Regions from separate parts of the Homo sapiens genome. Here all the other regions are linked to region 3. Evidence: fine-mapped expression QTL. A gene starts in region 3. Each other region holds a variant in brackets. All regions are shown on one strand. Distances are from middle to middle.

Region 1 (2,500 bases), 990 kb after region 3:
TTGGGCAAAGACAGAACCTGCAGTGAGGGGCTAGTTGTGTGGATGTGGGAGCCAGGGCCTCCCAGCAGAGGAAAAGGAGAAGGAGGCTGGAGTGGTGATGCCAGCCCTTGTCTGTGTTCTCTCGGAGTTGCCACTAGGGGAGGGCCTTGCCAGCTATCCCTCTTTTAGCCGGGCCCCTCTCGGGCTGAGTCCCTGGCCTGTCCTCACGTGGGAGTGGGAGTATATGAGCCTGGACATGGCCAGATGGCAGTGATCGGGGCAGAATCGGCCCCATTTGGTTGTGTCCACCTGGGAAAAACAAGCTCAGGCCTTCTCATGGCCAGCTGAGCTCTTCTGAGCTCGTGTGGGGTCAAGCTGTGCTAGCACCACTCAGTCCAACAAGGGTCCCAGGCTGTGCTGTGTCCTCTGCACCCCTGCCCATCTCTGGAGGAGCTCAGCAAGGCGGGGGGTAGTCCTTGAGCCTAGGGCATTCCGGGACCCGCATTCCAACCTCCCTCTTTCCATATCTTTTTTTTTTTTTTTTTTTTTTTGAGACAGAGTTTTGCTCTGTCACCCAGGCTGGAATGCAGTGGTGTGATCTCGGCTCACTGCAACTCCACCTCCTGGGTTCAAGTGATTCTCCTGCCTCAGCCTCCCGAGTAGCAGGGATTACAGGTACGTGCCACCATGCCTGGCTAATTTTTGTATTTTTAGTAGAGATGGGGTTTCACTATGTTGGCCAGGCTGGTCTCGAACTACTGACCTCAAGTGATCTGCCTGTTTTGGCCTCCCAAAGTGCTGGGATTACAGGTGTAAGCCACCACGCCCGGCCTCGCTCTCCATATCTAGATTGGCTTCTCTCCAAACACAACAGACAGAGGGACTCTCCTTCCAGGGAATCTTGAGGTGCCAAAGAAATCTACAGGTAAGGGTCTGGATTTCCTGCTTCCAGAACCCCTCAACCCTGTAGAAGGCAGGGTGGAGGCAGAAGTGCCAGGGTCAAATTCAAGCTTTGCCACTTGCTTGTTCTGTAGCCTTGGGTAAGTCACTGACTCTCCCTTGGTCTCTGTTTCCTTGTCTGTGAAATGGGGATAGTGATCCAGGCATACCTCACTACCAGGTTCGTGGGAGGGCTACAGATAGCAGGTCCTTCCCTCTTTCTTCCAGAGAATTTGAGAAAACAGCAAAATGCCAAGAGTCCAAAGGGCAGGCCGGCAGGCACTGGCTGCCTATGGGGCCTCCCAGAAAGCACAAAGGGAAACAGAGCCAGTGAGGACGGGAGAGGCTGCCAGCAGCAATTGGTGAGCAGAGCAGCAGATATTTATTCTGAATGTCCTTACTCCACACACTCTCACCCCACCCCACCCCCTCTCCCTGCTTGTTTAGAGCCTGGGTTCCAGGAGGGCCAGGA[G/A]CTGGAATCAGCAGGTGGGATGTGCCACTCGTGGTGTGGACAGAGAAGGGAGGATGAAGTCAGGGCTGGACCTGGAACCACTGTGGGAAGAGAGAGTGGAGGGCTGAGAGGGCCAGATGCTGGTTCTCCTGACTTCCCCACCCTGACACTCCAACTGCGAGTGCTTGGCATTGGGGTCATAGCCCTGGCACTGGTGAGGACCCCCAGCAGCGGCCTCAGAGGGGCAGACAAGTCTATGTGCCTCTTCCCCTGACCTCTCCCAGACCCCACCATTTGCCCCAGCCTTGTGATAAAGGCCATCTTGTTCCCAGAAATAAGGCTGGCATCACCCACCAGACCTACCTGGCTAGGCTGTCAGTGCTGGTCCAGAATGAGGGGCACCTGGGCGCTGTCCACGCGGGGAGGCAGCCGCTCACCTGTGTGCACATTGAACATGGGCAGGGTGGAGAGTGGCCGGGGCACCTCGCGGCTGGCCGCCATCTGCCGCAGCTCCTCTGTGTTCCCGTGGATGGTGCAGTGGTGGACCATCTGGATGCTGGAGGCACAGGTGGGGAGTCATCAGCTCTGGGAGTCAGCTGCCCTGGAGTACAGCCTGGAACTGCCTCTGAGCCACCCTGCGGTCCTCCCCACCACTTATGTGGGGAGAGACTCAGACACATGATGCAGGGGCAGAAAACAAACAGAAAGCTCTATGGGGCCGGGCGTGGTGGCTCATGCCTATAATCCCAGCACTTTGGGAGGCCAAGGCAGGCAGATCACTTGAGGTCAGGAGTTCGAGACCAGCCTGGCCAACACGGTGAAACCCTGTTTCTACAAAAAATAAAAATAAAAATTAGCCAGGTGTGGTGGTGGGCACCTGTAATCCCAGCTACTCAGGAGGCTGAGGCAGGAGATTCACTTGAACCTGGGAGGCGGAGGTTGCAGTGAGCTGAGATCGCAAGAGACTCCATCTCAAAGTAAAAAAAAGAAGAAAAAAAACAAAAAAAAGAAAGCTCTATGGTGCCTGCTCAGTGCCCAGTGGTCAAGACATAGGCTGTGGGTGTAGACAGCCTGGGTTCAAGGCTGTGTGTCTTGGGCAAGTTGCTTAACCACTCCATGCCTTAGTTTGCT
Region 2 (2,500 bases), 890 kb after region 3:
GCCAGGTCAAATCCCACCACAGGCTGGGATTACTTACCCCTAGAAGGGGACAAAAGAGCCTTCTCTCCCCTAGGGAACAAGCAGAGACACAGTCCCAAAGAGGGTGGGGACATCCCAGGGTCCCCCAGCACTGGAGGAACTGAGCTGGGGCTAAGTGCTGGCCCAGGTGTCCAAAGCTCAGGCGGGAAGGAGCTGGAAGGATAAGCTGAGGCTAATAAGGGGTCCAAAGTCCCTATTCACAGAGACGTGCTAGGTGTCAGATAAGGTGGTGGGTGGTGGCCACTTCCCACCACAGGATCCCCCTCAGAGGTGGGAGAACCCAGCCTCTCCCAGAGCCTCCTCCGCTGCCCCCACCTCCACCTCCACAGCAAAGAGAGAAAGGAAGTAGCTAACTGTGTGTGGTCAGGAGGAAATCCTGATTCTGGAAGGTGGCGACCAGGCTCCAGAAGCAGGCTCCTGACCTACAAGGGTAGGGCCCAAAAGTTCAACAACCTTACCTCCCAGTCTCACCTTTTGGGGGCCAGCCAGCAGGCTGAACAGCAAGGTGGGCGCGAGGCCGGGGACCCAAGCTTGGGACATCCTGGCTTGGGGGCCACTGAGCTTTCCTGTGTAGAGAAGGCGGGGCTGCGACCTCTCCCACTTCTCTCCACCTATGGGGCCCCGCCTCGGGATGGGGGCGGAGCTGCACCGGGAGAGGCGGACTCGGGGCAGGGAGGGGCTGGGAGGAGGAAGGGAGGAAGGGAGGCGCAGAGGTCTGGGTTGGGTTTTGGGATTTGGGAGGTAGAAGAGATTAACGGATTTTTAAAAAAGCGGTCCCGGGCGCGGTGGCTCACGCCTGTAATACCAGCACTTTGGGAGGATCACTTCAGGTCAGGAGTTCGAGACCAGCTTGGCCTACATGGTGAGACCCCCCGTCTCCACTAGAAATACAAAATTTAGCCGGGCGTGGTGGCGGGTGCCTGTAATCCCAACTACTCAGGAGCCTGAGGCAGGAGAATCGCTTGAACCCGGGAAGCAGAGGTTGCAGTGAGCCGAGATCGTGCCAGTGCACTCCAGCCTGGGCGACGGAGTGAGACTCCATCTCTAAATAAATAAATAAATAAATAAATAACCTAAATTTAAAAAGAGGTGGGATCAACTCCACACCGCTGAGCTGGGCCTTCCTAACTCCCAACTCCTCCACTCCTAAGTGCCCCAGACTCCAGGGAGGGGTGCCGGGACCGGCGGGAGTGGGAAGGGGACGTGGAAGCCCCTTCTTATCTGGACCTCTGGGTCTGGTGAGAAGTCAAATGGGGGCAGAGGTTGAGGGAGGGGAAGGCGAAGGTTCTAGGGTAGATTTTGAGGGGTTATGGTTGGGGGATATCACCCCATTGTGTTTTGACCAAAAAGGGAGGGACAGAGCAGCCTGGCTGATTTCAGAGTG[C/A]CCTGAGATTTCCAGGTCGAGGAAGGAAGACCAGGAGCACAACGTGGGTACCTTCGTGTCCCCTCCCCTCTTGAAATCCTACAGGAGGTGTTGGTGCATTTTCTCCCATTGACAAAACGGGAACTCAAGGCCCCAGGGTTTAGACTGCCCCGGGGTCCGCAGCTGGGGCTGGTCCTCTGCCAGGCCCGCCGGGGCGCGGGCGAGCAGGCCCATCCAGATTCCTGGAAAGACCCCGCGGAGGCCGCCCCAGTGCGGAGGGGCCTGATTCTGAGCCCCCTGCGGCCGCCGCCTCCAGCACTCCAGGCGCGGAGCTTCCGGGAGCGGCCGGCAGGTGGCAGCGTCGCCCAGCGCGGGTGCCCCCGGGAGCCGGGAGGGGCGCGGCCGGGGCTTGTGGGCTGGGGGCGCTGGGCGAGGGCGAGGCAGGAGCAGTGCAGCCAGGACCGCGGGAGGGGGAGAGGGGGTGATGGAGCGTGGGGCGCTGCTCCCTGGCCCGGCCAAGGGGGACCCTGAGAGGCTCAACGTCATGTCCTTGGGCGCCTCCTGCTGTGTCGCCAATCTGTCTTGACCCCTGAAAAACACCCCCGACGTCGTGGGCGTTTCTTCTCTTTCCTTGCTCTCTGCCTCTCACCCTTCTCCCTCATCTCTCCCAGTCATGTTCTCTGTCTTATATTTAACCCCTCTGTGTCTCTCCCCGTTTCTCCCAGCCTCTGTTTTTCTGTTTCGGTTTCTTCCCATCTGTCCGCACCCAGTTTCTCTCGAGTTCCCAGCCTTTCCCTCTGTTCTCCCGTCTGTTTCTCCTCTCTCTGTTCACCTCTGTCTGCCTCGGCGGAGGCGTCTGTTTTTCTCGGTTTCTCTGGTCCCTTCTCCTTGTCCCTGGTTTGGTCCTGCACCCCCAGTCTCTCGGTCTGTTTCTTATGCTGTCTCCCTGCTCTCTCTCTCCCTTTCCCTGTCTCTATTTCCCATTACCTCCTAGCCCTTTTTGCCCCTTAAGAAGATAATCTTCTAGTCTCCTGATCCGAGGGGTATTGGGATCTGGCCCCTCTGTATTTGAAGTGACTGTGAGCTTGGAGAAGGGAA
Region 3 (2,500 bases):
TTTGTAAGCCTAAAAAGTAGGTGGTTTGAGGATCTAGATTTAGGGAATTAAATTTTGGCTGCAACTGAAGTACATATGTCAGGTCATCTGCCTGGCAGAGGTCATGTTAAACTCCCCTGGGCTACTCACAATGCCCTTTTAAATATTTCAGATAATAACTGAGAACATTCTCTTCACCGATGAGCCTGGTTGAATTTCAGTACTTAGATTCTTACCCGTAAGTGTAGGGATTCAGATCTGTGCCCCAAATTTAATGTGGAAAATACACTCACTACCCTATGCTAAAGGAGGAGCACCGCACTGGAACTCGGAGTTTCAGACTAAAGCAAAGGAGATTCCAAGCCTCCATTCTGTGCCTAGGTGGACCCGAGTGGGCAGGCGCAGGGGGTCTGGGGCCCGGGGTTTTTCCGCTCCCTGCTGCCCCCCTGCGGCGGGTGGGCAGGTAGCGGCCCGCGGGAAGGAACCCAAACCCGGAGGGCGAGTCACGCTACCAGCGCTTCACCTTCCCAAGGGCGTCTGTCCCCACCACCCCGGGAAAGGGTCGGCGGGCCCAAGCCGCCGTGGGCGGGGGCAGAGGGCAAAGGGATTTCGCGGCAGCGAAATGAACTCGGAAAGCAGACGCGGACAAACCGCCGCCGGGAGGGAAAAACACCCGCGAGCCGGCTGCAGCGGGGAAGGGGAGACGGGGGCGAGTTACCCGGAGGAACTTCATGGCCACGAGGCGGAATCCCTTCTGCTCGAAGCGCTTGATGATCTCGCCCACCAGGCCGCGCTGCACGCCGTCCGGCTTGATGGCGATGAAGGTGCGCTCCAGGTTGGCCATGGTCCTGCGGGGCGAGAGGTGCGGTCAGGGCCCGGGCGCAGGCTCTGGCGGGGCCCGCGGAGGCCACGTGGGCGCCGCCGGTCCCTCCTCCCCCACCACGCGCGGCCGCGGGGACACGTGGCTTCCCGGCCGCTTCCGCCCCGCGCAGGGCCGGCGTCCCTCTGCGGAGCCCGAAGGCCCGCGGGGCGCAAGCTGCAAGGGAATCTCCCGCTCCGACGCCGCGCGGGACCTGCGGGAAATCGGGGGGCGCCCACAGACCGGGCCCACCTGCGGCAGCGCAAGCGGAAGAGGGAACGGGAGGAGTCGCCAGGGGATGCGCCCCCACCGCCTTACCGGGAAGCTGGAGGGGCCGGGCGGCGGCGCTGCGCTGGGAGAGCAGAGAGCTGGTGCGACCACCACACCCGGGAGCCGGCGGCGGAGGAGGGGCGCAGGGCGGAGCGCGGGGTGGCCACACCCCGGAGGGCCCAGCCGCCCAACCCGCAGGAACGCCCCACCCGCCCGGCCCGACGCGGCCGGAGAACAGTGTCCACGCCCAGCCGGGGCGCGCCCTCGCCAGGCAGAGATCGAGACGGATCCAGAGACAGGAAGTGATTCCTTCTCCACCTGGACGTCCTATGAGTTCAACTACGCACGTCCCAAATCCCACTCCTCACCTCTCAGTACTTCCCGTGACCCCAAAAGCTCCTACACACACACACACACACACACACACACAGAACCTGCTCCTGTGCTCGAGTTCTCTACCCCGGTCAAGGCCATCTGCTGCTTTCACCATCCGCCCGAGCACCGGCATTAACCTTGACTTGGCTCTCCCTCCCCGTCGTGCACCCACGGTCCTTATCCTCCCTACCTCTGAAATCCAGCCTTCCCTCCCCTCTGCTTGAGCCCTGGTTAAGCCTCGGCCTCCCAAGGGGCCTCGATCTCACCTCTCCGCGCAAACCGGGAGCTTTGCTCAGCACCTCAAACGGCCATCTGGTCCTGCCTCTGCCCTGCCTTGATGACTCCCCCGCCTACAGGATGGCGTTCAGACTCCTTAGCGGGATGCTCTTCTCGCAGGATGCCCTGCTCCCTGGCTGCCGCCTCCCCACCTACATTTCCAGCCCCAATCAGCCGCCCCACTCCCACCCTGACATGGGGATCCCTGCCCACCTGGCACTAAAGTGCGGTCGAGTTTTCCAGTTCACCCTGAGGTGCGCCCCTGGACCCTGAGGAAAGTCTAGACCCTGTCATAGAGATTAGGCCTGTCATCGACCTGTAGACACTTCCTACTTGCAGTGTCCCTGGCAAACAAGCTCCCTTTGGTGATGCCCAGCTTCCCTGGGGCGGTCACAAGCCCCTCCTCTCGGCGCCTGCAGCACTGACTGACAGCCGCACAGCAGTGGTACTGCCCTGAGATGGTGAGAGCCCGCTTGCTTCCCCTCAGGACTCTGAGCTGACCACAGCAATCATGCCATCACCCGAGTGCCCCTAGCACTGCGCTGATCACCTGTCACTGGCCAGATGGATGACAATCTGGCCTCTGTTATACCTTATCGGCTTTCCAAACTTCTAGTTACAGAGCATTAGCCCACCACACATTGACAATGACTGTCATGTGCCCTCATCTGGGGGCACTGTTATTTTTTGGCTTCGATCTGAAACACACTCTCATTTGGATTACCAAATGTCAACTGTGAA

What was found. PIP is the estimated chance that this variant, and not a neighbour inherited with it, causes the effect.
Region 1: its variant is fine-mapped to the expression of NME2 in spinal cord (GTEx, PIP 0.98).
Region 2: its variant is fine-mapped to the expression of NME2 in minor salivary gland (GTEx, PIP 0.97).

Annotation. Positions count from the first base shown.
Region 1 is chr17:50,174,682-50,177,181 of GRCh38, reverse strand. SGCA (sarcoglycan alpha) reads right to left here. Exons shown (of 10, transcript NM_000023.4): 9 at 1,733-1,925; 10 at 1,254-1,470. The coding sequence ends at 1,745. Among named protein-coding and RNA genes, the nearest start is that of SGCA, 9.9 kb to the right of the region's middle. RefSeq lists enhancers at 1,140-1,434, 1,728-2,329. The variant G/A (reference allele first, on the strand shown) is at 1,391.
Region 2 is chr17:50,272,581-50,275,080 of GRCh38, reverse strand. It overlaps TMEM92 (transmembrane protein 92), which reads right to left and starts at 615. Exons shown (of 5, transcript NM_153229.3): 1 at 511-615. The coding sequence starts at 579. RefSeq lists silencers at 239-533, 1,671-2,010. The variant C/A (reference allele first, on the strand shown) is at 1,424.
Region 3 is chr17:51,165,154-51,167,653 of GRCh38, reverse strand. It overlaps NME2 (NME/NM23 nucleoside diphosphate kinase 2), which reads right to left and starts at 1,243. Exons shown (of 5, transcript NM_002512.4): 1 at 1,157-1,243; 2 at 698-827. The coding sequence starts at 823. NME1-NME2 (NME1-NME2 readthrough) reads right to left here. Exons shown (of 9, transcript NR_037149.2): 6 at 698-827. RefSeq lists silencers at 313-512, 773-1,402 and an enhancer at 682-1,290.